Homo sapiens: one gene and its partners. The protein of the gene in region 1 interacts with the protein of each later gene in a biochemical or structural test. Each region holds a gene or a part of one and is shown in the gene's direction. Other genes may lie near its edges.

What was found.
Region 2: the proteins of THRB (region 1) and PPARGC1B form a complex in vitro, tested with the Homo sapiens proteins (one study listed by BioGRID).
Region 3: the proteins of THRB (region 1) and BRD8 form a complex in vitro, tested with the Homo sapiens proteins (one study listed by BioGRID).
Region 4: the proteins of THRB (region 1) and LRIF1 form a complex in vitro, tested with the Homo sapiens proteins (one study listed by BioGRID).

The regions. Positions count from the first base shown.
Region 1 is NC_000003.12:24,484,837-24,491,864, reverse strand, and holds part of THRB (thyroid hormone receptor beta), read left to right. Parts: intron 1-7,028.
Region 2 is NC_000005.10:149,733,310-149,740,337, forward strand, and holds part of PPARGC1B (peroxisome proliferator-activated receptor gamma coactivator 1-beta), read left to right. Parts: intron 1-7,028. UniProt on the Homo sapiens protein: Plays a role of stimulator of transcription factors and nuclear receptors activities. Activates transcriptional activity of estrogen receptor alpha, nuclear respiratory factor 1 (NRF1) and glucocorticoid receptor in the presence of glucocorticoids.
Region 3 is NC_000005.10:138,161,617-138,168,644, reverse strand, and holds part of BRD8 (bromodomain-containing protein 8), read left to right. Parts: coding exon of another isoform or gene 1-175; intron 176-566; coding exon 567-711; intron 712-1,917; coding exon 1,918-2,127; intron 2,128-2,536; coding exon 2,537-2,817; intron 2,818-3,478; coding exon 3,479-3,931; intron 3,932-4,231; coding exon 4,232-4,325; intron 4,326-4,511; coding exon 4,512-4,558; intron 4,559-5,300; coding exon 5,301-5,515; intron 5,516-6,498; coding exon 6,499-6,591; intron 6,592-6,780; coding exon 6,781-6,849; intron 6,850-7,028. UniProt on the Homo sapiens protein: May act as a coactivator during transcriptional activation by hormone-activated nuclear receptors (NR). Isoform 2 stimulates transcriptional activation by AR/DHTR, ESR1/NR3A1, RXRA/NR2B1 and THRB/ERBA2.
Region 4 is NC_000001.11:110,953,895-110,960,922, reverse strand, and holds part of LRIF1 (ligand-dependent nuclear receptor-interacting factor 1), read left to right. Parts: intron 1-7,028. UniProt on the Homo sapiens protein: Together with SMCHD1, involved in chromosome X inactivation in females by promoting the compaction of heterochromatin.

The DNA.
Region 1 (7,028 bases):
TTACCTTGATCCCTGGAAGACATTGACCTTCAACTCCCTGAATTTCAGCAGAATCTTTATGAGTTCCAGAAGCATTGCCAGTGCTAAGAGTGAAATTCCAGGGACTAGACTTCACTGGGTGATGGCAGTGTCTTCTCACTCAGCAGGTCCTGGCAGTGCCTCTGGCAATGGCAGCCCTAAGTGGACCAACCAGTGCATGGTGGTACAATTTGGGCTGCAAAAGTGGTGGTTGGTGAGGGGGCAAAATGTAATGGTCAGGATCCAACACAAGATAGAAATAAATAGGTCTTGGTGATAGCTTTGAAAATAACCTGATGGTTATCATATGTTATTAGTTAAGTCAGCCAGCCTCTTTTTGCCCTCTTTTGCCGCTTCATAAAAGTATTCTGAACCAAATGATGGTGGGAAATATTGCATTATTTGAGTTTTCAAGTGACCAGAGCATAATATCAAAGGAGTCATCTTCAAATTAGTTATTCATGGAAACTCTTGCCAATTGAGAGCAAAAGGAAATTATAATTGAAGATTATGGTGATTTGTTTTTGTGTCTAGAGTATTGACTTTCATAAGTGTGCTGAGTAAATGCATAGTAAAAATTTCACAAAATCAGACTGTTAAAAATGGGAGGGGAAGAAAGATCAAAATCTTGTAGAGGAGGGAAGATAATTAAACTACAATCCTAAGTGCTTACTGCTTTAGAGTATTTAATTTGGCTCTGAGCTTCTTAGTAGTAGCCAAGTTAACAGAAAAAAAGGGGGTCTGGAGGTGGCATGCATTAAACTTGTAAGGATGACACATGTAGAGTGCCTGCCATGGTGCTTGCCAACTAGTATATACTCGTATGAAATATCAAATTATATCATGGATAATACTTGAACTTCAATTCTACATAAAGTGAAGTGAGGTTCTTTATATGATCTTGTCTTGTTACCAACTCTGGAATGGAAAAAAATTGCAGAAGACATAATAATGAAAAGTAACCCAGTATGTTTATTGTTGGGGGCCTGAGCTACTATGGCCTATCAGTGGAGATTCTGGTGATGAATCCCAATGCAGAAATAAAGCTCAGGAAACCTAGAGGAATGAGTGGTTACCACACTCTGTAAGCTAATTTTCCCAAATATCTAGTGTGTCAGCCAACTTTTGATTAGAGCAATTTGAGAGGACAGGACAACGAGGTACTTGAAAATGACCCTATGGCCATAAACACCCCTGAATATGTGGCCCCTGATGCTTTGGGCTTTAGTCTATATAGCTCTTATCACCCTGCAGGGCAGTTTGTTTCCATTTCTGTTCCCACCTCTAAGTTGTGATGAGGCACGATGTGTGGGTTTATTCATCTTTGACTCCCCATAGCCTAGCAAAGAGCTTGGTACATGGGCACAGGTGAAACACTGTTGGAAGAATGAATGGAAGGGTAGAAAAGGCAGTGCTTCTCTTTCCCTTCTGGGTTGGTATTAAGTGTCATATTTGGACTTGGATTTGTCCAGAGTGAACGTTTGCTGCCTGCATTGCATCATATGTCCAGATCACAGCTGTCTGTTTTGCTTGAAGGGCTTGTTCTAGTGTCAAAGCTGGTTGAGCAATGGATGGCAAGTTAACTCCTTGTTTTATTTAAAGTCATTCTGATTCTTTGATTTGATTCCTCATTCAGTCTACAAATATTTATGTATCTACTATGTACCTGGCTCTGCTAGCCATTTTTCAGTTCAGCATGCAGCCCAGTGACCTATGAGACAACATATTAATACAAAAGGATTCTGAAATTGTCTCCATTGTGATGAGATGAGTATACCTGTTGGAGTCTCTCATATGGCCCCTAAAAATAGTTATTTTATATCTGAGGAGGTGATTGTTTGTGATTTCTATAGCCCATGTATATTAATGTAAATTCCAGTGAGATTCACTCAAGAATCTCTTGTATCCAAGTAGTAGGGGAGTTGAATATATTTAGACCGGTGAGCTTCTGATTTAAAATGTTCATTCTCCAATTTAAGTTCCCAAACTTGTTAGTCAATTTTGGCATTTAAACAAGTGGGGGGGAGTATCCAAATCACTGAGTCACAAGTAATATATTTCCATATCTTCCTCTCAGGAACCTGGCCAACTGACAGCTAGAATAGTGATCTATGCTCAATGCTAATGTTGTTTGGTCCCTACTGTCCTAATTTCAAAGGACTTTGAAGTCTTTATATACTGTCAGCTCTTGTGCAGTGCTATTTTTATTGAGTTGAGAAACTGAGTTCTGCTGTGAACTTCAGGATCTTTTCCAAATAGCAAATCAGGGGAGTCTGGAATTAGGACCTAGGAACCTTGACTGTCCTGAGAACCATATTGTAGCTTTTCCATCATGACAGTCAGTCCTAACAATCTGATATACTCCCTGGAAAGTGTTTCTGATAGATGTAGATGTGCTTGATAACAGGGCTCATCTCCCTTGCTCAGACACATTAAATTTGCACAGAAGGCAGATCTACCTGTAGCAACCCAGAATACTTGCATTTGAGGCTTTTGCAAGAAGATAATCTGTGATAATCTTGTACTGTCTGCTGGTCAGTGCTTACCAGAAATTAAATGATATTGGTATAGTGGTTTAAATCTTTTTTTTTTCTTATTTTTTTTTTGCGACAGAGTCTTGCTCTGTTGCCAGGCTGGAGTACAGTGGTGCAACCTCGGCTCACTGCAACCTCCACCTCCTAGGTTCAAGGGATTCTTGTGCCTTAGCCGTAATTACAGGCACATGCCACCACACCCAGCTAATTTTTGTAATTTTAGTAGGGACAGGGTTTCACCATGTTGGCCAGGATGGTCTCGATCTCCTGACCTCGTGATCTGCCCACCTCAGCCTCCCAAAGTTCTGGGATTACAGGCATGAACCACCACTGAAATCATTCAGTTGATTTTATTGATTGACCAACATCCATCGATATGTTTAAAATTATTCTAAGAAGCAATATTTTTTATTTAAAAAATCTTTTATGGCAAAATAATTTAAAGGAACTTAACGAAAACCCTCTGTGATATCATCTTACCACTTTATGTGCTAAAAGCAAACAGTTGTTTGCTATTTGTCAGACAGTGCCTTCTGTCTATTAAAGCTATTTTTCCAGTTACTACTCATTCATTTAAGGCAGTGAAGGATCTTGAAGTATATTCTTTTAGCAGTTAAGATATATTGAATTGTATTGAATAGCTTATTTTATTCTAGTTATTTGAAAATTACTGAACAATGGACAATGTGCAAATCATTGACATCTGTCTCAGATCTGCTGAGACAATCGTGATTTAGAGATTAAAAAAAAAAAAAGAAGGCAAATTCATGGTCCAACTCATCACAGTGAAGAAACTTGTGGCTTACATATCTCAACTTACGTTTGTCTTGCTGATCTGCATGTTTTATCCAATTTTTATTTTTCCTAATCCTATTTTAACAAATACTATCTATAGTTTATTTCATATCATATGCACACATGCACAAACACCTCAATACATACATGTCTCTGTGTTCTAAGAGTGGACTGCAGACGAGGCATACACAATTAGGAAAGGATTGGTCTGGACTGAATTGCTCATTCAACTTCCTACTTCCCAAAGAGGGTCTTCAGGGAGTCATGGCTTCTCTTCTGTGATCAAGAATTTAGGCATTTATAAGAAAGTCATGAGTGACAAGTTTATTAAAACAAAAGTGTGGACAAAGGAATGTAGACTGAAAGCAGGCATATCTTCTTTATTAGGGAATATACTTACTTGACTCCTGGAGGCTCAGGAATGTTTGTGATGAGGAATGTTGACAAGATAGTCATGGTGTTAGTAGCATAATATATGATCCTGACATTCAGGAACCTGTTGAGTATTGTAACTCTTGTGACATGTTGTTCCTTGGTTCTCAAGATGGTTCAGATGTACTTCTTCCCTTTGCCATTTGTTTCTCTTGGGATTCTGTTTTTTCTGATTTCATCAATGTCTACACAAAGCAGGTGCTCAGAAAATAATGATTGATGATAGCAATCATAATGTTTCTTGGGCTTGGTCATCTTTTTGCACATTTCTGTCTTATAGTCATAAATGTCTTAACAACTGGCATGTCCATACTTGCAGAATCTGTCTCTGTGACAAGTGTGTGTCATGTTCTCACATACAGTGGAAAAGGCACTGCTTGTCTCTGGCTTCTGCTGTGATTCCCATGCTCAGCTTTTAAATCACAGTGAGAAATGCTACAGTCACCCTGATGTCCCAAGCCACAAACCCTGTCATTGTTTTCAGTCCCTTCTACTTGCTCCTGAATATGTTGACAGATCCTCTTCTTATATTATTACTTTTTGCTTCTTTTACTGCTGTATTTGTTTATTTTACTCTAGGCTCAATTATGTTTGGGAAATCTTGAGTTTAACAACTTGTAAAAGTTTCCAGAGCCTATTTTTATACTAGCATGCATTATAAATGTCCAAGAAAGGGGAGAGCAGGTAGCAAAATTCATTTGATCACCATTTTATTTGTGTGTGTGTGTGTGTGTGTGTGTGCTTGTGTGTCTAAAACCTTAAGTGGCAAAAGTTCAGCACAATAGGTTGTGAGGAACAGTTCACTATATCACACTTTTTAAAAATCAGGCTCATATGTTTTAACCTTTTAATACAGTTCATAAAAAGTGACAAATGACCAGTATCTAGCACCACAACAGAACCTTTTTGCTTTTTCACACACACACACACACAAACCCCTAGCAACTTGTATACAACACTGGCTAATGCTGCCTGTTGTTGAAGTGTTTTGCAAGAATGCAAAAGTCCTGCTAAATTTCTGTCCCTTTGAAAACATTATAATCATAATCTTTCCTTGACTTTCTTTCTGCTGTTTAGGTGTATTAATTTATATAAGCTGGAGAATGGTTTATTTCTGCTGTATTTCTGTTTACTTTTAAAATTTTACCTAGGCTTCACTGCAATTTCTGCTATACTTCTAACATCTGGAGATCTAGAATAAAGTACCTATATCTGAATTGTAGCTGCAACAGGGAATAGAATAAGGTTGTTTAGTCTTGTGTTATTTTTCTTTAAAAAAAAAGGAACCAAGGGAACCTTACACAGAAAATATTTTTTGAAACAAGTTAAGTTATGACCTATGTAGATGATAAACCTATACATTTGTCCTGTAATGTAGCAGTTATAAGGGATTTGAAAAGCATCTCATCTCCTTGAGGACTTGTGAGAAAAAGATCCTAGGCATCTGGCTTATTAATCTATCTCCCACTCTATGGGTTCATAAACATAAGGTATTGCTAAAGTGAAGCCATGCACTAGAATGTGGTGCACATGCATTCATGTATCATTGATTAAGAATATGTGTTTCAATTTATCTTTATTGAAGTTGCCACAAAAATCAAGCCTTATAATAAGTAATTTTTTTCTTCTGGAGTCTGTCCGTTGGTCACAAATGCATGGGACATCTGCCAAGTGCCAGACACGATGGTAAGTGCCAAGACACCATGGTAGAGCATTTAAAAATTCTTGTCGTATGGATGAGATGCTCGGAATCTTCTGGGGCAATCTACAGGAGGTGATTTAGTGTAGAGTAGTGTTTCTCAGCAGAGGTACTATTTGAGTTTTGAGCCTGGTAATTCCTCTACGCTATGGCATTTGCGGCCAGATAATCCTTTGCTGTGGAGGGCTGTCGTATATATTACAGGATGTTTAGCAGCATTGCTGGCTTCTACCCACTAGATGCCAATAGCTCCCCCAACCCTCCAGTTGTGACCATCAAAAATGTCTCCAGATATTATCAGGTGTCTACTGGGAGGCAAAACTGCTCCTATTGAGAACAGCTGGTGTAGACGTTTGGAACTGGGGCCGTGGAGTGGGAAATGTGTGGATTTGTATGCTGGTTTCACCTGGCTTCATTGCATGTGTTCAGTTTCCTCATCTATCATATGTGGAGATTAAATGAAATAATATAGTGCTTGAGTCACAGTCAAGTATTTCTAAATATTAGCTATTTATAGTAGTGGTAGCATTAATACTTTAGCAGACAATTAAAATATTTGTAAGTCCAATGACATAGTTAAGTACAATGTACATTGTGGGAACCCATAGGGGTGGGAGGGTTCTAGGCAGAAATAAATATGATATGCCTATGAAGTGAAAGTAAAAGTATGAAGCATTTGGGAAATTGTAAGGAGCCCAGCCTGACTCATGTGCAAAGGACTATAAATGAGGCCATTGGAGCAGGCAGGAGCCAGATGGCGAGGACCTTCCTGGGCACAATAAGGAAGATTGACTTTGTCTTGATAGCTTGAAGAGACTTAAGAATGTTCAGCAAATCAGATTTTTATTTTAAAAGAGTTCTTTGGGATAGGTCTTGAGTGAGAGACTGGAGGTGATGAGCCCAGTTAGAGACTCTTAGAATAGTCCACTGAGAGATGATGCCTGCTGGAGCTGAGGCAGTTATACATTGCTGTGATGTCTTTGGGAACAGATTTCACTTTCTCCGAGATGTGGCAAAATTTTTCTAATTTAATTCCAATAATGAATATTTTTAGCAAGCTAGCTCTACATTTGGGGGAATTTCAAGTTTAATTTGAAAGCAGATTACATGATAGATTCTCTTTAAAATGTTTTCAAGTGAAGCTTAATTTAAAGACCATCTCACAGCCTATTCATAGTTGAATATTACTTCAAGGGTTTCTCTGCCATTGTATGTACATGCCTATAGCTCCTCTGTCTGACAGGAACGTGTTTCTATATGATTACATTGAAATAGCATTGACATTGTCGTGTTGAGTTTCATTATTTAGTGTGAAGCATTTCAGTATTTAATGTTAAGTGATTTTCTAACTGATGGGGATTTTATTTCTTTAATGATCCAGATTAGAAATGGATGAAGATAATGAATGAATGAATGAATGCAGGAATGGGTGGCATTATGGAAATATCACCTAATTAAGAATAAAAATATTCTGGACAAGTCTCTTGGCTGATCTGAGCTTTAATTTTTAGTCATAAAATGATACTTGTAGGTATATTAGATAATTCCAA
Region 2 (7,028 bases), on another chromosome or scaffold:
GCTTTGAGGCATGGATCCCAAAGGACTGTGGGTGGCTTCACCTTTGTTCAGGCTATGCCCCTGGCCCAGAGTACCCTCACTCACCCGTCCTGCATGGCCTTCTCCTCTACTAGGCTCTCCCAGCCCAGCTTGCCCTGCTTTCTCTCCTTTGGTTTTCTGCATCTGTGTGATACAACCAAGCACTTTGTGTGAGTCTGGTGTCCAGTAAGATTCTAGCACTAGGGTTGTACCTTTTATCATTGTGCCTGCAAGGCACCTGTCAGTATGCTGAGCTGTGTTCCTTTGCTTAGCTCTTGGCTAGGCACATGGATTACAGACAGGGGTGCAGCTGGGTCCTGCCAAGCAGAAGCTCCCAGGCTAGCAGGGGAGACAGCTGGGCAGCGAGTGTGGGAGAGAGGAATGCAGAGGGCTGCAGCTGTGGGCAAAATTTTAGACCCCAAAGGCCACACAGCAAGTCCACACTAAATATGGGCTATTTGAAGTTGCTTAGGGCATCAGTCATAGATGCACAAAATGTCAGAGTTGGCAGCGGGAATGTTAGAAATCATCAGTTCTAACAACTTATTTAAAAATATTTAATTATAGAATTGTTAGAAAATACTGCCAAGCATAAAGAAAAAAATGAGAAATATGTAACATGACCCAAAGATAACCACTTAATTGTCATGTATATTCCAGACTGTTTATTTCCTGTTCATATAGATCACATCTTATTTTTAAAAAATGGAGTCGCCGGGCACGGTGGCTCACCCCTGTAATCCTAGCACTTTGGGAGGCCGAGGCGGGTGAATCACCTGAGGTCAGGAGTTCCGGACCAGCCTGGCCAACATGGTGAAATCCTGTCTCTACTAAAAATACAAAAATTAGCTGGGCGTGGTGACACACACCTGTAATCCCAGCTACTTGGGAGGCTGAGGCAGGAGAATCGCTTGAACCCGGGAGGCGGAGGTTGCAGTGAGCCGAGATCGCGCCACTTCACTCTAGCCTGGACAAAAGAGCGAAACTCATTCTCAAAAAAAAAAAAAAAAAAAAAAAAGGAGTTATCCTGAATATACTGATTTGTAACTTGGAATTGCACTGTTCTGTAACTTGTTTTTTTTTTTCCTCTTCCAAACAATATGCTGTGAACATCTTTCCACATCAGTAAATATTCTACTTAGTATCTTAATGATTATATAATGTTTTGTTGAAGATTGAACCGAGATGTATTTAATTAATCCTTTATCGTTACTCATTTACGTTGTTTAATTTTTTTATTTTGCTATTGTAAGCAATGCTAAAACGAATATCTTTTTATGTATGTCTTTGTTTCTTCCTTTAAGTTCCTAGAAGTGAAATTACTCCATCAAACTCATTCCTGGATTCTCTTCTAGAAAGATTGTACTTATTTGTGCACTGGCATGGTCTGGGAACACCTGGTTTCCTATACCCAGATAACTGTTGATATTTTCATTGTTTTTCATTTTTACCAGTCTGTTCGTCAATAAATTCTGTTACCCTTATTGTTTTAATGTGCATTTATTTGATTACTTGTGATGCTAAACTTCTTCCCCATATGATCATGGGTGACTTGTGGTTCTGTGTTTCTGAACTTGGCCCATTTTGCAATTGGTATCTTGTCTCCTCGTTGTTCTAAAGCTGGGACTGAGCACCCAGAAGGGCCCCCTGCCACATGGAGAACTGGGAAAATGGCTCCACACACCCCTTGAAGCCAGGGCCAACTTCTTTTTCAAATCAGTTTGTAGATTTGGACAAATGTATAGTGTGTGGGAGAAGATTGAAGCATAGCCTTCACTGGGTGCATTTGCCCATTCTTTATCTGTGTGAGACTTAGGGAGAGTAACTTCTTCACCTGAGCCAGAAGGGGTCATGTTCACCAGAGACCTGGGCTCCACTTTCATTGGGATTCCCTGGCTGGTGCTAATGATCAGGATGCCTGTGAAACCCAGGAAGGGCAATGGCCCAGCAGCTGTGCCCCACGGGCTCATATTTCCTCTTTACCTTAGGGCCCTCCTCTTAGCAGCTCGTGCAGGCCAGGCAGAAGTTCCACTATGCCACGTGAGTCACCCTCTTCCTTCTTCCTCTGGAATAATAGAAGAAAGACTGGCTCGAGTGAGAAGCAGTCTTGCAAAGGGGGCTCAGGCTTGGAAATGCCTAACAAGAATATTGCAGTGTTGATCCTTGCCTTCTCCTTCATCGTCATCATCAGTGACGTTTACTGAGTATCCCCTATACCCCATGCAGTTTTCTGAGCCTTCTGTTTGCACTACTACATTTCATTCTCATAGATATTGTGCAAAATGTAGGTGCTGTTGCACAGCTGTACAGATCTTACAGTTTCAGAGAACTCACTGACTTGTGGAAGACTAATTACCTTTGAGTAAGTAGAAGAGCCAGCATTAGTGGGCAGTGTTCCCAGACTATTTGACTCTAAGCTCCTTGAAGACAGGGGCTACTCTCAGTTTTTGTTCATCAGTGTTTTTCTAGCACCTTGAGCAAATGAAGGCACATAGATTGTATAGAGAGAATGCAGAGGCCGGGTGCGGCGGCTCACGCCTGTAATACCAGCACTTTGGGAGGCCAAGGCGGGCAGATCACGAGGCCAGGAGTTCGAGATCAGCCTGACCAACGTGGTGAAACCCCGTCTCTACTAAAAATACAAAAATTAGCCGGGCGTGGTGGTGTGTGCCTGTAATCCCAGCTACTCAGGAGGCTGAGGCCAGAGAATTGCTTGAACCCGGAGAATTGCTTGAACCCAGGAGGCGGAGGTTGCAGTGAGCTGAGATTGCACCACTGCACTCCAGCCTAGGCAACAGAGTGAGACTCCATCTCCAAAAAAACAAAAAAGAAAGAATGCAGAACAAGTCCCTCTGCTTCTCTACGCCTGTTTTTCAATCCTTGAAATGGGGATAATAGGCCCTCTCGATTGGGAGTGAAATAATACAGTATATCTAAAATGAGCATTAACCTGCTACTCATGAAAGTTGGAATAATTCTCTCTTTGAAGCACTTTAGAAGGACAGGATTAAGTATGGAGCTAATTTTCATGCATGCAATCTTTTTTTTTTTTTGCGTAAAAAAGAGAAGCATAATTCTTATTAGAGAGTGAAGGGTACCCAAATAAAGTCATTTGGAAGAAAATGATCAGGGTCAGTTTCTATCTGTCCTCCTACAAGGTAGTCGGAGTGCCTCATATCCATCCCATTGACACTCAGCTGATGCAGAATCGATTGGATTGATCTTTCTGTTCTTCTCCCCTTCTGATCTAGGTTTTTGTCTGTTTGTAACTAGATTCCTGCAGTTACTACCAAAGAGATCTTTGCTGCACCCGACTTTGTCTTCTTCCATTTGCCCTTAGCCCAGATGGCAGATCAGTCCTCTTAGAGTGCATATCTGACATCACTCTCTTGCTCACACATCTCCCATGGCTCCTCAGTACATTTTTTTTTCTTTTAAGACTTTATTTTTTTAGAACAATTTCAGGTTCACAGCAAAATTGAAAGGAAGGTACAGAGATTTGCCATATACCCTTGCCCCCAACATGCATAGCCTCCCCCATTATTAATATTCCCCACCAGAGTTGTAGATTTGTTATAATTGATGAACCTACATTGACACATCATTGCCACCCCAGAGTCTGTAGTTTACATTAGGGTTCACTCCGTGGGTTTGGACAAATCTGTAATGACAGGTATCTACCATGGTAACATCACACAGAATAGTCTCACTGCCCTGGAAATCTGCTCTACCTTTTCATTTCTTCTGTCCCCCAACTCCTGACAACCACTGATCTTTTTACCGTTTGTACAGTTTTGCCTTTTCCAGAATGTCATATAGTTGGAATCACGCAGTATGTAGTGTTTTCAGATTGGCTTTTTTTTCACTTGCTGATAGGAATTTAAGGTTCCTCCATGACTTTCATGGCTTGATAGCTTAGCTCTCCGGTATTTTAAAATTAAAGCCTAAACTTAAACCTGATTTCCGAAGGCCTTCGGGTACTTTTAAGTTGGAGAGTTAGGCCCTTGACTTTGTCTTGAGCTGTCTGCTTTTACTTTGGGATCCTGTACCTCCCCAGGAAAACCCTGAATTTTCCTCCTGGAGGCTTAGACTCAGGCTGCCCTTTTCTGTGTCTTCCTTCTCCATTTCCATGATTCATCCTGCGAGCCCCTGCTCACCAGCCACTGTTTTGGCGATGCCCTCTCCCTCACCTCCAAGCCAGCTGTTCCATCTTCTGTGTGGCAGTACGCAGGGCCAGCAGAGCACTGACCTTGGAATCCCCTTACTGGGTTTGAGTCTTGGTTCTGCGATTTGCCAGCTTCGAGGCCTTTGGCGGGTCACATAACCTTTCTGAGCTTCTGTTTCCTGAAGTGAGAAGATATGATGATTAAGATTGTTGTGAAGAGGCCGGGCACAGTGGCTTACGCCTGTAATCCCAGCGCTTTGGGAGGCTGAGGTGGGTGGATCACCTGAGGTCAGGAGTTCGAGACCAGCCTGGCCAACATGATGAAACCGCGTCTCTACTAAAAATACAAAAATTAGCCGGGCATGGTGGCGCATGCCTGTATTCCCAGCTACTTGGGAGGCTGAGGCAGGAGAATCACTTGAACTGGGGAGGTGAAGGTTGCAGTGAGCCAGGATCACACTACTACACTCCAGCTTGGGTGACAGAGTGAGACTCTGTCTCAAAAAAAAGATTGTTGTGAAGAGTCAGTGAAAATCGAATGACAACATGGATTTAAAGCATGTAACACATGCCTGGCACAGAATAAGCACCAAATAATAGATATATCTCTTCATCTATAGATCATATTAAGTGTTAGGACATCACTCCTGGACGTTAAGCTCCACAAAGGCAAGAATTTTCGTTTATTTCATCCACCTTGTTTTTCACCATAATGAATAGATCAGTGCCTGGAATATAACAGACATTTAATCAGTCCTCATTGAATGATTAGGAAATCACTCCTGGACGTTAAGCTCCACAAAGGCAAGGATTTTCGTTCATTTCACCCACCTTTTGTTTTCACCACAGTGAATAGATCCGTGCCTGGAACATAACAGACATTTAATCAATCCTCATTGAGTGAATGAATATGCTAGACTATGAGCCTCTTCAGGGCAGACACTGCTTCTTGTTTTATATCTTCAGTCTGAGTGTTCCTGAGAAGGGATGGAATACAAGTCTGGTGGAATGAACTGGAATGTCCTCTCCCCGCCACCATCCCTGCCATTTTAATGTATTCATAGCCTACCTGAACTTTAAGCCCCCTCTTGAAAGCCTGCCCTCTCTGGAAAGCATTTTTTTTTTTTTGAGATGGCGTCTCACTCTGTCGCCCAGGTTGGAGTGCAGTGGTGCAATCTCGGCTCACTGCAACCTCCCGGGTTCAAGCGATTCTTCTGCCTCAGCCTCCCAAGTAGCTGAGACTACAGGCATGTGCTACCACACCTGGCTAATTTTTATATTTTTAGTAGAGATGGGGTTTCACCATATTGGCCAGGCTGGTCTTGAACTCCTGACCTCGTGATCCGCTCGCCTCGGCCTCCCAAAATGCTGGGATTGCAGGCATGAACCACCGCGTCCAGCCTCTAGAAAGCCTTTGAAGCTAACTTCTTCTGCTTCCACCACCCACGTGGCTTGTGCCACTTACTATCCCATGGTATCTGAGTGTGCTTTTATTCCTACAACTGGATTGAAAGCTCTGGGAGGACAAGAAATTATTTTTATCCTGGACTAGCAGTGTGGTTGCCTAGAAGAGCGTTTTATAGGTTTCAATGTCAGGTTCTCTGAAAGAACTTTGTATTTTAAACATTTGACTATGGAAAATGTCAACTCATACAGAAGTAGACAGTAGAGAGAACAGTATGGTGAATCCCCATCCCTCCATCACCCAGCGTCCACTGTTAAAGACTTGCAGTCACTCTTATTCCATCTCCATGTACAAGACGTCATTTCATCTGTGACTATTTCGTTGTGTATCTGTGAAGAGACTTCTGAGTGCTATTGCATGGATTTCTCCCAATAACTGTGAGACTGGCTTTCCCCATTTTGTAGGTGATGAAACTGAGGTGCAGGGAGGTTAGGTCAGTTGCTCAGGGTCTTGAAGCTAGTGAGCGGCTTACCTGGGATTTGAACCTTGACTGTGAGCAGCTCCCTCTCCTTCCAGGCTTGGGGCAGGGGGCCCTTGGAGATACAGGTACACCTTGCCATTTCCAGAAGAGAGGAAGCTGAGGTCCAGCTGCTTGGCTGGAGGAAGCCCAGGCCCCTGACTCCCTGGCAAGTTCATTTCCAGTGTCAGGTCTTGCGAGGTGCGGTGGGCCTTAGCTCTTGGGGAGGGCCAGGGTGGGTAGTCCTCTGAGAGACACCATTGCCCTGAGTGGCTGGGCTTTGGATGGCCGTGGGACCCTGGGGCAAGGTCTACCACCACCCCTGGACAGACTGCATTTTCTTCCTACTCTTGTCATTCCTAAATCCCAAAGGTCCTCCTTGCAGCTGACCACGAGTTCTCTCATGAGATGCTCAGGACTACCCAGTGAGGGAGAGGGAGCCAAGGGGTCAGCAGCTGGGTTCACAGAGCTCAGAGAGGAGGGGCCTGGCCTGAGGTCACCCAGCTGGCCTGGGCACAGGGTTGACAGGCTCTTGGTGGCATCTGGACCCTTGGGCTCCCACCCTGCTCTTTCCTCAGGATAGAGACCGAATTGCTACCCAGATCTGGAGTAGGAGACCAGAGACGAGACCTGAGAGACTTTCACAAATGGTGGGATAAAGCCATTGATTAACTGTCCCCAAAGGCCTGTGATGACTGTTTGGTGTTTTAGGTAAGAAAACAAACATTTGCCCTAATTGTTTGCTTCAGTGACTGAGAGGGCTGTGAATTCTAGGATGGGGTTCTGCTTGGGCAAAGCCCTGGGAGCTTGGCAGAGAATTTCTTTTGGCCTTCTTTTTCTATCTAGGAAATGGGGACGATAGTAGCATATGCTTTGAAGGCTTTTAGTGAAGAATAGTTGAGGCAATGTCTGTAAAGTGTTCA
Region 3 (7,028 bases), on another chromosome or scaffold:
TGGGATTCCTGACACCCTTCCTCCAGGCTCTGCACCCTTAGAAGCCCCCATGACCCCAGTAACAGATGATTCACCCCAGAAAAAGATGCTTGGACAGAAAGCAACTCCACCCCCCTCCCCTCTGCTGTCAGAGCTCTTGAAGAAGGGCAGCCTCCTGCCTACTAGCCCCAGACTGGTATGGAGACTTCTGTGGGTGTTTGAGAGCTGTGGTGATTTAGTACTTGGAAGGGAGTGCCTGGGACCTAAAATGTGACATGGGGAATAAAAGTTCAAAAGAGGAAAAGATCTCCTAATTAAATGTTAATTTTTTAAAAATACAGTAAGTTGATAGTACCCATGGGTCCTGAGGTATCTGAATCACAATTATTTTGGTTCTCTTCTCCAGAGAACTCTTGTCAAATAAGTTTTGAACATTATAGTTTAGAGTTTCCCTTGGGTCTTAAATTATTCTCTGTGGATATTAGCTATTAGTTTTCATGAAGTTTGATCAACTGCTGGAGCTTTGTTGGGAAATGGTAGTGAAGGAAAGCTTGAGTGTAGCCTTCACCTCTATTCTTCCCTGGTAGGTCAATGAGAGTGAAATGGCTGTGGCTTCTGGCCACCTGAACAGTACAGGTGTCCTCCTGGAGGTAGGCGGGGTCCTTCCCATGATACATGGTGGGGAGATACAGCAAACACCCAATACTGTTGCAGCCTCCCCTGCTGCATCAGGTAAGTTACCACTTTTCCTTTATCAACCTCAAAGGTGTTGAACTTGACATTGACTGACCTCAGTTTCACTGTTACTAAGCAGTTGTCAGTGCTAGATTTAAAGCCCAACTTTTTCTAACTTTTTTTTGGAGCTACTTTACCTGGTAAACAATGTAGTCTCCATATTATAAAGCCATCTATCTTCAAGATAGTGATAGCCCTGATTGACCACAGCATGGATATTGAGAGTAATATTGAACTGCTTTCTTAGGGCTTGCAAAATCAAGGTGCTAGAGATACCTAAGATTATAGAATAGTGGAATAAGATTTGGAACCAGAGAATTGGGCTTGAATCTCAGGCCTGCCACACATTGGTTTTGTGACCTTGGATAGGTAACTTAGCTTTTGAGCCTCAGTTTCCTTTTTTATTGTAACATATATACTTCACAAGGATGTGATGAGAATTTAATGAGGTAGAAAGTATAAAGCAGGGAAATAAAAAAAGCTCCATAGAATACCATACAAACCTTATTGGTATTTGAATGGTGTTGAACTTGGGTGGTTTACAATATGCTGAACTTCAGCAGAAGCGACAGATTTATTCATACCAGTTTTTCGTTTCTTGGTGATTAATTTTCCTCTGAGGAAAAATTACCACCCTTTGTTGTTGTTGTTGTTGTTTTTTTTGAGACAGAGCCTTGCTCTGTCGCCCAAGCTGGAGTGTGGTGGCACAATCTTGGCTCACTGCAATCTCCACCTCCTGCGTTCAAGCAGTTCTCCTGCCTCAGCCTCCTGAATAGCTGGGATTACAGCACCCACCACCACGCCTAGCTAATTTTTTTTTTTTTTTTTTTTTTTTTTTTGTATTTTTAGTAGAGGCAGGGTTTCGCTATGTTGCCCAGGCTGGTCTCAAACTCTTGACCTCAAGTGACCCACCTGCCTCGGCCTCCCAAAGTGCTAGCATTACAGGCGTGAGCCACTGCACCTAGCCTTACCACCCATTTTTTATATATGTTGTGTGTTCTAGTGCTTTGGTTCATTCCTAACTTGGAGGAAGATCTTAAGTAAGGTTAGAGTAAGGATATAGATGATGAACTTATTCAATGCAGGAGTTGCTCTCATCCTTTGAGACCATAAGAATTTTCTTAGTTGAGTCTTCAAGTAGCTATTGCTTCTTATTTATGTGCTTTCTTCTTACTTCATTTTGTGTACCTCTTTATATGTTAGGTGCTCCCACTCTTTCCCGGCTTTTAGAAGCTGGTCCTACACAGTTCACCACACCTCTTGCTTCCTTCACTACTGTTGCCAGTGAGCCTCCAGTTAAACTTGTGCCACCCCCTGTAGAGTCTGTGTCCCAAGCTACCATTGTCATGATGCCTGCGCTGCCAGCACCATCCTCTGCTCCGGCTGTCTCCACTACTGAAAGTGTAGCTCCAGGTGCGTCCCTGAGCAGCCACTAGATCTAAAATTTCATTTTGAGCTTTAGTTAGAGAAAAATGACCAAGAGCATCAGCTCCGATTCAGATGCTTCTTCTCTGTTCTACATAGACATGTGCCATCTTTATCCTTAGAAATAAATATCCTTAGAAATAGATGTGAGAAGAGGTGGGTGGGCATTTATGTATTGCAGGAAGAGGCTAAGTATACAGATATGAGCAGGCTTGAAAATATGTTCTCACCTTTCTAGATAAAACTGGGGAGAAGAAAACATAGGCACATGTTGATGACTCTTTCTGACCTTAAGTGTTTGGATATTTGACATCTGTCTGTAGCGCTTATGTGATCTCAAGGTGGTCGCTTTGTACCCAATAAGCTTCTGAGATGCTTTTCTCTTTCTGTTACTCAGTGAGTCAACCCGACAACTGTGTTCCCATGGAGGCTGTGGGGGATCCACATACTGTGACTGTTTCCATGGACAGCAGTGAAATATCCATGATCATCAATTCTATCAAAGAAGAGTGTTTTCGATCAGGGGTAGCAGAGGCTCCTGTTGGATCAAAGGCTCCCAGCATAGATGGGAAGGAAGAATTAGATCTGGCTGAGAAGATGGATATTGCTGTGTCTTACACAGGTGAAGAGCTGGATTTTGAGACTGTTGGAGACATCATTGCCATCATTGAGGACAAGGTAACTATTCAGCGAAGCCCCAGAGAATCTCATGGGTCCTACATAGGCTTCTCTTTTCAGCCTCACTTTGGTGCTGCTGCTGCTTTTTTTTTTTTTTTTTTGGAGACAGAGTCTTGCTCTTTCATCCAGGCTGAAGTGCAGTGGCACGATCTTGGCTTACTGTTACCTCTGCCTCCCAGCCTCAAGTAATTCTTGTGCCTCAGCCTCCTGAGTAGCTGGGACTACAGGCACATGCCACCACGCCTCACTAATTTTTTGTATTTTTAGTAGAGATGAGTTTTACCATGTTGGCCAGGCTGGTCTCAAACTCCTGGCCTCAAGTGATCCACCCACCTCGGCCTCCCAAAGTGCTGAGATTACAGGCATGAGCCACCATACTCGGCTGCTTTGCTTCTTACAGTAAGAATTACTTAAACAACTCTCCTACTTCTGCCCATCTCCATCTTTGTAGCCCTTTGGTGCTAACATACTAGTCATCTCCTCAGGTCTACCCATGTTACTGGTTTGCACAGGACAGGTGCCTCTTCATTGTTTGCCTCCACTACATGGAAAAAATGGAGCGAAAAGCTGCAGATTCAAGCCATCACATTTGGTGCTAACAAAAATTGAAGGACTTGGGCTTCTTTCTGTGACCTCAATAGTCTTGTGTTTTGTGGGACAGGTAGATGATCATCCTGAAGTGCTGGATGTGGCAGCAGTGGAAGCAGCACTGTCATTTTGTGAAGAAAATGATGATCCTCAGTCCCTGCCTGGCCCCTGGGAGCATCCTATCCAGCAGGAGCGGGACAAGCCAGTACCTCTCCCTGCACCAGAAATGACGGTCAAGCAAGAGAGACTGGACTTTGAGGAAACGGAAAACAAGGGAATACATGAACTGGTGGACATCAGGGAGCCCAGTGCAGAGATCAAGGTGGAACCTGCAGAACCAGAGCCAGTCATTTCAGGAGCCGAAATAGTAGCTGGAGTTGTTCCAGCCACAAGTATGGAGCCACCAGAACTCAGGAGTCAGGACTTAGATGAGGAACTGGGAAGTACTGCAGCTGGAGAGATTGTTGAAGCAGATGTTGCCATTGGGAAAGGCGATGAGACTCCACTTACAAATGTGAAGACAGAGGTACTTAAGAAAGATCGGGGCTGGGGAGATGGAGGTTTATACCTTAGATAAGAAGTGACAGCTTAGGCTTTTTGGTTTTCCAGTTGCATTCCTGAGTTCTGACATGTTTGATGTGTCCAAAGCCCATAGGCTGTGATTAGTGTTATATATACTTATTCCTGTTAAGGTGACCATTGGAGTCACATTACATGAGTAGGACTTAGAATTTCTTCTATGGTCTCATTATCACTGAAGAATAAAGTTGTGTGAGCTATAGCGATTTATCAGTACTTAGGGTGTTTTTTCTTTTCTGGTTTTCAGGCATCCCCTGAAAGCATGTTGTCTCCATCACATGGCTCAAATCCCATTGAAGATCCTTTAGAGGCAGAGACTCAGCACAAGTTTGAAATGTCAGGTAAATAAAGTCCTCTTTCACTGACTTGAAATCATTTGCTTTGGCTTCTGAGGGGTTGTGGGTTGTGGGCAAGTAGAGGAGGTAGAACAGGTCAGCATGTAAAGGAGAGCTGCAGGGGATTATGGTCCATAGGAAGGGGAAGGCTAAGGTGGAAAAATCTTCAGGTAGTCTTTCTCTCCTCTGCAGACTCATTGAAAGAAGAATCAGGGACTATTTTTGGAAGCCAGATAAAGGTATTTCAGACTTTTCTTTATTCCTCTTGCCATGTGATTAGATTTCCCTATAGCACTACTTTTTAATGAATTTCAGTAAAGTCACATCTTTATTCTCTGATAAGAGACTGGTATGGAGTTGCATGGGGAAAAGCTGCAGTAGACAGGCATAATGGGAGTACTATAGCAACAGGTGCCTCCCATATGAAACAGCATGTGAATATCACACAGTCCTTAAGAAGGCTTGATACACTTAGAGTGATTTGTAGTGAATAAGGATACCTGAGCCAAGGAGAACATACAGGAATCAAGTTTATTAATTAGACTATCCAAAGAGAATCATCCAGAGTTTTCTTTTTAGAATTATTAAAGCAGCAGTAACAGAGGCTTAAAGAATGTGATGTGAGCTTGCTCCATCAAATGAGACACAAAATAAAAATTATTTTTGATAACTTTGTACCCAGGGTCAGAGTTACTCTCGAGCAAGGGGAAAGAAGGAACGCCTCTTAGCTTAGTCTTAAGTAAGTAGCTTTTTTTTTTCTTTCTTTTTAAAAGATCCTGGGTATTATTCTTTGTCCAGGTTCTAAATTACTTAACGCAGTGTCTGTAAGTAGATGGTAGTATAAGTGATAGACAGCTGAGTCAGGAAACAGCGTGAGGTCATTTCTAGAACTAATTCTAACCCAAAAGACAGATCATGTTTAATGATGCTTTGCTGGATAGCTTTGCTTGCATTTGTTAACTGGAGCATACTGTATCTAAGGATGCCCCAGGTGAGGATGAGGAGGAAGATGGTGTCAGTGAAGCGGCCAGCCTAGAGGAGCCTAAGGAAGAGGATCAAGGAGAAGGCTACTTGTCAGAAATGGATAATGAACCTCCTGTGAGCGAGAGTGATGATGGCTTCAGCATACACAATGCTACACTGCAGTCACACACACTGGCAGACTCCATCCCCAGCAGCCCTGCTTCTTCACAGTTGTGAGTATCTGAGATTCTTTCTTTGAGGCCAAGGCAGTGAAGGTGAGGAGAGGATCTTTTCCTTCCTTCCTTCCTTCCTGTCTTTTCTCTTTTCTTTTCTTTTCCCTTTCCTTTCCTTTCCTTTCCTTCTCTTTTTTCTTGTTCTCACTCACCCATGCTGGAGGGCAGTGGTGCGATCTCAGCTCACTGCAACCTCCACTTCTCAGGCCCAAGCAATCCTTCCACCTCAGCCTCCTTAGTAGCTGGGACTACCAGCCTGTGCCACCACACCCTGCTAATTAAAAAAAATTTTTTTAGTAGAAACCAAGTTTTGCTACATTGCCCAGGCTGGTCTCAAACTCCTGAGCTCAAGCGTTCCACCTGCCTCGGCCTCCCAAAGTGCTGAGATTACAGGCGTGAGACACCATGCCTGGCCTTTTTCTTTATTTTTAAATTTTTATTTTAAAAAAATTTTTTTAAGGGACAGGATCTATGTGGTCCAGTCTGGTCTTGAACTCCTGACCTCAAGCAGTCTTCTTGCCTTGACCTCCCAAAGCAGTAGAATTAGAGGCATGAGCCACCATGCCTGGCCTGATCTTTTCTTTAGTGTTTCCCTTTTTTGACCTGGAATAAACAGCTGACAAGAAATAATTAGGGCTGGGCATAGTGGCTCACACCTGTAATCCCAGCACTTTGGGAGGCTAAGGCAGGAGGATCGCTGGAACCCAGGAGTTCGAGACCAGCCTGGGCAACACAGTGAGACCCTATCTCTACAAAAAAATTAAAAAATTAGCTGGGCATGGTGGTATGCACCTATAGTCCCAGCTACTTGGGAGGCTGAGGTGAGAGGATTGAGTCTGGGAGGTTGAGGGTGCAATGAACATGATCATGCCACTGCACTCCAGCCTGGGGGACAGAGTGAGACCCTGTCTCAAAAAGAAAAGAGAATTATAATTTTTATTTTTTAACTTGTGCCTAGTGGAATTGCTGTATCTCTGTTTCAGCTCTGTCTGTAGTGAGGATCAGGAAGCTATTCAGGCACAGAAAATTTGGAAGAAAGCCATCATGCTTGTATGGAGAGCTGCAGCTAATCATAGGTGAGTGGGCTTTACCAGTCAGTAGGTTCATTTTCTCCTACTCTTCATTGTTGGTGACTGGAAAAAAGTCTGAGTAGGCTTCTGTGGAACTGCTGGTATTAGTTCTTACTACCTTTAGTTACTTAGAGTAAGTTCCCTCCCTGCACTTCTGGAGAATGTCAGTAATTGCACCTTATTCCTTTTGGACAGGTATGCCAATGTCTTCCTGCAGCCTGTTACAGATGACATAGCACCTGGCTACCACAGCATTGTGCAGAGGTGAGCCATGGTCCACCCAGCATGGTAACTTGCCTGAATTATAAATTGTCCAGTCTTAGTGAAGTTTTGCTTTCGATAGAAAGTTTAAAGCAAGTAAGTTTATGGTTTTGCTATAAGGGGCACTGAGTGCTAAACTGATAATTCCAGTGGCTAGATCACCACTGATAGTCTAAAAGAAT
Region 4 (7,028 bases), on another chromosome or scaffold:
AGACTGACACAGGTGTACATTTTAGATAACGTTGGCAGTCTGGATTTGAGGGTGAGTGATCTACATATAAGGATCCTATTTCAGTTGTCTTTTCAGAAATTCTGAGGGCCTGAACTAGCTGGTACAGTACAGTAGGGGTTGGATTCAAAGAAATATAGAAGGGAAAATAGACCGACTTCGTTAATGAATTGGCAGGAAGAAAGGGGGATCAATTATGATGCCAGTTTTCTGGGTGGATATTGGTAAATTAACTGAGATGAGGAACACATCAAGAAAGCAGTCAGATATTTGAATATGAAACTCAGGCTGAGTCAGAGCTGAGACTAGAGATTTGGGAAGCATCACCTTAGAGGTACTATAATGAAAGCCTGTGATTATATATCCTACAATAATAAGAATTAAGACATCATGTGATTGGCCATTGGCAGCTATCTTCCCATAACCATTTGTATTCAAATGGGGAGCTAAACTTAAGTGTTCTCAGCAGGGGGTTTGGTTTGACTGGAATGATGATGCTTCATTGTCAGTTCAGTATGCATTTTGTTGTGTACAGTGTTTTATTTTGTGATTTGAGTGTGTCTGTGTGTGTGTGAGGGAGAGACAGACACACATACTATAGAGTCTAAATGAAATCTGTCATTAATCTCTTAGTTTATACATTTGAATTTTTTGGACCCTGTTATAATGGGGTTATGCTAAAGTAAATATAGAAAGTAGATAAGCTTTCTCAAGGGGAGTGTGTAATTCTAAGTAAGTTATTAAATGTTTCCAAATCTCCATTTTCTCAAGTATAAAATGGGAATGGCAGTTCATAACTTTCTTGACTGTTTATTAGGATTAGAGTTAGTAACAACTGGTATATCTATCATGTACGCAATACATGGTACATATTATTGGATAGATAACTATGTTATGTACTTAGATATATTATGTTCTATATGTATATAATGTTATGTCATAGATAGTAAGAAAAGGATTTCCTAGCAGTTGAAAAAAATATATTTTGCAAAAATATCTATAAAATGTTCATCAGCCTTCAACATTTTTATTAGTCTATTTCTAATATATGAATGCCTCATATCAATATTAGAATAGTAAAAAATGTCAGAAGTTATATAACATTACCAATATGTTTAATGTGCCTTTTTATTAAATTTCTCATTCTTTTTTTTTTTTTTTTTTTTTTGAGATGGAGTCTCGCTCTGTCGCCAGGTGGAGTGCAGTGGCTCGCTGCAACCTCGACCTCCTGGGTTCAAGTGATTCTCCTGCCTCAGCCTCCCAAGTAGCTGGGACTACAGGCGTGTGCCACCACGCCCGGCTAATTTTTGTATTTTTAGTAGAGACGGGGTTTCACCATGTTGGCCAGGATGGTCTCGATCTCTTGACCTCATGATCCGCCCACCTCAGCCTCCCAAGGTGCTGGGATTACAAGCATGAGCCACTGCACCCGGCCATATTTCTCATTACATTTTTAAAAGACCTTATCTTACCTTATTCTCAGAGACCAATTGCATATTTTAATGGAAGATGATAACTGTTATGCTCCCAGGCAGTTATTTCATTTACTTCTCCTAGTAAGCTTTATTTTCCCCTATTTAACAAATGAAGAAACAGATTCAAAGAGGATAAGTACATTTTCTAGTCAACTTGTAATTATAAGAACCAGAATTAGTAGCCTGTAATCTTTCTAATATGTTCCTCTTTTCTCTTTTAAACTGTTAAACTGTATTATTTTTCAAATGTAGTTTCTCAGTTTGAACACCAGCTGGTTTAAAGTAATTACTTTAAAGTAATTAGGTGACCAGACTAGAAAATGGGATGCAGAATCTGGTTCTAGTTTTAGTTCTGACATTAGCCCGCAGAATATGATCTTTCAGAAAACAGAATCTTTGTAGGACTTTAATTATTTAATCTCTTCAATGGAAGGCTCCTTCTAGATATGAAAAACTGTATATTGATAGAAGGAGTACGAATTTCATCCTGAGTTATTACTTCTTAGCATTCTGCAGATTAATTTTTAGAACTCATTACATTTTGTTGCCAAGAAATCATGGATTTTTAAAAAAATTATACCTTGTAGGATTCAATTCAGCTAACATTATTGTGTGCAATTTCCAGTTTCTGAATTAGATGCGGAGTATATAGATATGAATAGGATAATCTACCCTGCAGGAATTTATGGTCTGTGGTAGATTATGTGACTCTCACTGATACACTGACATGGAAGAAGCTTAATTTTTCTTCCTTTTTTTTATTTTTTGGAGGTGAAATAGAGGAAAAGAGAGGGAAAAATTTAGTGATCAGATTGGAAAATAGCTCACACAGTATAGTTTTTTTTATAAAGCAGAAATATAGACATCATATAAAATACTATGCTTGGTATTGGAAGGATATTTGCAAAATAAATTATAAAGCCTCTCACCTTAAGGAGTTTCAGTCTTATTGAATGAAACAATACTCATTTTAAAAAATTAGCTAATAGATTAAAGTCAATAAAGAAAGCATTATATAATTTCCAACATTAATAGCACCAATGGGAGTACATTCGGGATTCCAAGTTGGAAGAAATTAAGCTGGAGTGACTGGCAGATATTTTATGGAAAAGATAGAATTGGAAACTAATTTTATATTGTTGGAGAAGAAAAATAATAATACTTTGAGTAAATAATGTAATATACATGGCATATTCCAGAATAGCAAAGAGATCTCTCTGGTAAGAGCAGAGATTTCACATTGAGAAGTTGTGGGTGGTATTGTTGTAGAGATTGGTTGGAGCTAGATTGTAGATGATTTTCGCGTCCAGCTGAATTGGCAATGATGAATACTAAAACTTTGAACAAGAGATAACAGGATGAAAACAATTTTAGTCTGCCAGAGATACATAATAGTCAATAGTGGCTGCAATCAGAAAAACAACATCAGCAAAATACTGTAGGGATGAGAATGATGAGTGCTAGACACATCTGATGAGGATCTCATGTAGATGGTGGAAGTCACAATGATGAAGAAAGAAAAGATGGATGAAATGGGTTAAAAAGAAAACCGTATAGACTTGATGATTCAGTATGCATTTATTAAATGTTTGCCTTTTGTAAGGACATATGCAAGGTTCTGTGGATGAATTTAAAGTAAATAAGAATGATGATAAAGACAAATCAGCAATGACTAGGTGATTTGAAACCTATATGATGTGGAAAATATTGGCGCTGCCATATGATTGAATGGTAGGATAGACTACTACTTTTCAATAGAGAGTAATTTTAACTTCGTAGATTTAAAGTGATGGGATTAAAATGTTTGGTAAGACATCACAAATATGGAACTGATGTCAATTCCAGTAGGGGACAGGAATAAAAGGATATAACTATGGGAGTCATTATTCCAAAGAAGATAGTTGAAAATAGTTGAAGCCGTGAGAATTGTTGCAGTCTTTTTTTTTTTTTTTTTTTTTTGAGACTGAGTCTTGCTTTGTCGCCCAGGCTGGAGTGCAGTGGCGCGATCTCAGCTCACTGCAAGCTCCGCCGCCTCCTCACTCCATTGTCCTACCTCAGCCTCCTGAGTAGCTGGGACTACAGGCGCTTGCTACCACGCCCGGCTAATTTTTTTTTTTTTTTTTTTTTTGTATTTTTAGTAGAGATGGGGTTTCACTGTGTTAGCCAGGATGGTCTCGATCTCCTGACCTCGTGATCCACCTGCCTCGGCCTCCCAAAGTGCTGGGATTACAGGCGTGAGCCACCGCACCTGGCGAATTGTTGCAGTCTTTAAGGAAGAATGTCTTGAAGGAGAAAAACAGGGTCAAGAAATGTGGGATAGTTAAAGGAGAATGCTTAGAATGCAGAAAATGAGTAAGGGAGCATTAGGAAAGTCAAGAGAAACAGAGGTTGTACACAGTGGAAACTATGATAGGTAAGAGGATCAATATGGAGGGATAATTAGTTGCAACAGAGAGGTACCTAGGGAATGAAGATAAAGACAAATTTAACTGTGAGAACATATTTGGTAATCTTTGAGAATGAAGTTTTAGTAGAATAATAGGAAAGAAAATAGACTGCAGAAGAAAGTAGGCTTCAAGATAACTTTCTGGCATATCACTTAATTGCAGCTTGTTAACACCATCTACCAACTTCCTGTCACTGAACTTGGCGCTTAGTTCACCATCTAGCTCACCATCTTCCCTCATGTGATTTCAATATCCGTATGGATAATCTCTTTGTCACCTCATCTTTATTACAGAGATCTTTTCCCCCAGTGATCTTATTCTCTGTTCTGTTGCACCTATCTACTTTTGTAGTACTTATTATTAGATGAAATTGCTGCATCTACGAAACTGTTTCACGCATCCTGTTTTCTAAATGCCAGTTCCTGTATTTCTAGCTGAGTTGTTTAACTGTTCCTACTGTAACTGTTAACTTTATCTGGCCCTACAGACCAATAATCCCTTTATTTTATCCCTATACTTTAGCCTTTTATTCTCTCATTTTCTTCCTATCCAGTTTAGACTCTGTTTCATTTTAATAACTCTTATCAATACCTTAAATTCTTTTGCTCTTCTTTGATTTTTTTGTTGCACCTTCCTGATGCCACCCCAACCCTGGATGAACTCAGTATGCTTTCTCTTTATCTGTGCTTGGTGTGACAAGAAAAATCTCGAGTACAGATTAGTACCACTATAAATTCATAACCACTACCTGTCTCCCCATGCCATCAACACATCCTGGCAACTCTAATATCTTCTGTGGTCAGTTTACTCCTTCACGAAGACTGTTCCAATCTTTGATTATCCTCAAATCTTTCCATATTTTTGCTCTTACTTTTAGCAGATGATGTCATGTGATTTTTCATAAAGAAAATAAAACCCATTAAATGAGAATTACCTCAGCCTCCTAACCCCAAAGTTGTATGCTTACCTGAAAATGCACATAATCTCTCCTCCAGTGTTGCAATGGAAGGAGATAGGTCTCCAGCTCTCTTTAAGGTTGAGTCCCTCCACCTGTCTCTCTGGTTTCCATTTCCTGCCTCCTTCTCATTGTGTATCCCTTTTGTTCCTTTATTACCAGTTTCTTCCCTGAACTGGCTCACTTGAGTATTTACATATGTTCTGGTTAATCTAACCTTAAACAAAGAAAAAGGAAAGATCCCTTCTTTGATTCCATTTATTCCTGTAGCTTCCTGCCAGTCGTTCTCTTCCCCTTGACAGTCAAAGTTTAAAAAGAGTTGTCTACTTGCTTCATACCCACTCCTCAGCAACTTCTTTCCCCTACCACACTGCTCTTATTAAAGCCATCAGTGATCTTCACAGCACTGTTTTCAGTGTACATTTTTAATCCTTATCCTATTTGGCATCTCAGAAACTTTTAGTATAATTGCCCAATTTTCTTAAAATCCTCTGTTCCTTTGGCTTAACATTGCATCAGAAGCAATGGTTTTCTTCCTACGACTCTAAGAATAATGGAAGGCCACTGCAATGTTTTAAGCAGGGAAAGATCAGTTTTAGTGTGCTGAGTAAATTGAAAGGTAGAAGATATGATTGGAGAAAAAAATCAGTCATGAAGCTATTGTAGTATTCTAAGCCAGAGATGATGTTTGCTTGGAGTAGAGTGGTAACAGTTGATTTGGAGAGAATTGAACAGATGAAAGGAAATTTAGGAGACAATATCAACAGGATTTTGTGATCACTGAATATAAGGAATAAGAAAGGAGGATTTATCTATTCTGACTTAAGGCACCTAAGGTAGATGAGATGCTATTTAGCAAAGAAAACCCTGCAGAAGATGGAACTTGGGGGGATTAGGATGGGCAGAGATCTGCTGGCCATGTTGAATTTTAGGAACGTTTGAGATTCTGAATGAAAATGTTAAAAGGGAATTTGGATGTATAAGCCTAAATTTCAAAGAAGCCACAGATAGAAATATTGAAATTGTTCATGCGTAAGTGATAATTTAATTGAAGTTATGCATTGAGAAGAAAGCATCTAACAAAAGAGTACAGAATAGGAAGAGAAGGATTCTTTCTAAGCTTTGGTAAACTCCCAACATTTGAAAGTTGATTCAAAAGTATGAGTTGGCAAAGAAGACTGAGGAGCCACTACAGAGGCTACTGTTACTCTTTTGATTTTTAAAAATCAATTAAAATATAAGAATGCACAGAAACAGAGTGGGCCAGATTAGGCCCAGAGGCTACAGCTTACTGACCCTTTTTTCCTGATGAGCCTGGTGCTTAACTTAAAACAGACACTTGGTAAATTTTTGTGTAATGACTTAATATTGAATATGTTCTTATCCAGGTCAAATGTGCTTTTCTTGTGGTGCAGGGAGGTAATAAAGGTAGATTTTTCCTCTTAAAACCCTGAAAGCAAGAATTCATCCTTTTCTTTGGGTTTATTCTCTTTAGAAGTTAACTTTTAATTTATTAAAAGTCAGTGTGTGACCAGCCTGGACAACATAGCAAAACTTTGCCTCTATAAAAAATACAAAAATTAGCCGGGTTTGGTGGCGTGCATCTGTGGTCTCAGCTACTTGAGAAGCTGAGGTAGAAGGATAGCTTGAGCCCAGGAGGTGGAGATTGCAGTGAGCCAAGATTGTACACCTACACTCCAGTCTGGATGACAGAGCCGGGCCCTGTCTCAACAGCAACAATAACAAAATGTCAATGTAATATTTTGACCCACTCTCACGTGTCCAAAAGACTTTTAAATTTTTGTAAGGATATAATAATGTTATTCGGGCTGCAGAAAGGTAAACCAAATTTCTACGGATACATAGAATTTTGGGTATTGATTTTTATTAATACCTGAGAGTTTTAAAAACATACCTTTATGCTTTTGAGAATCCTAATTATTATCGTTATTATTTGCCCTTGAACTTTTGTATTTATTTGATCTTAGTTATCTAAGACCATGCTAGGTCTATGGTATATGGATGCTGCACTCATATTGGTAGAATATAATATGAGAGACAGTCTATAGACAAACATATTAATATATGATGACAATCTATGATATATACCATGAAGGAAGCTAACAAGCATAA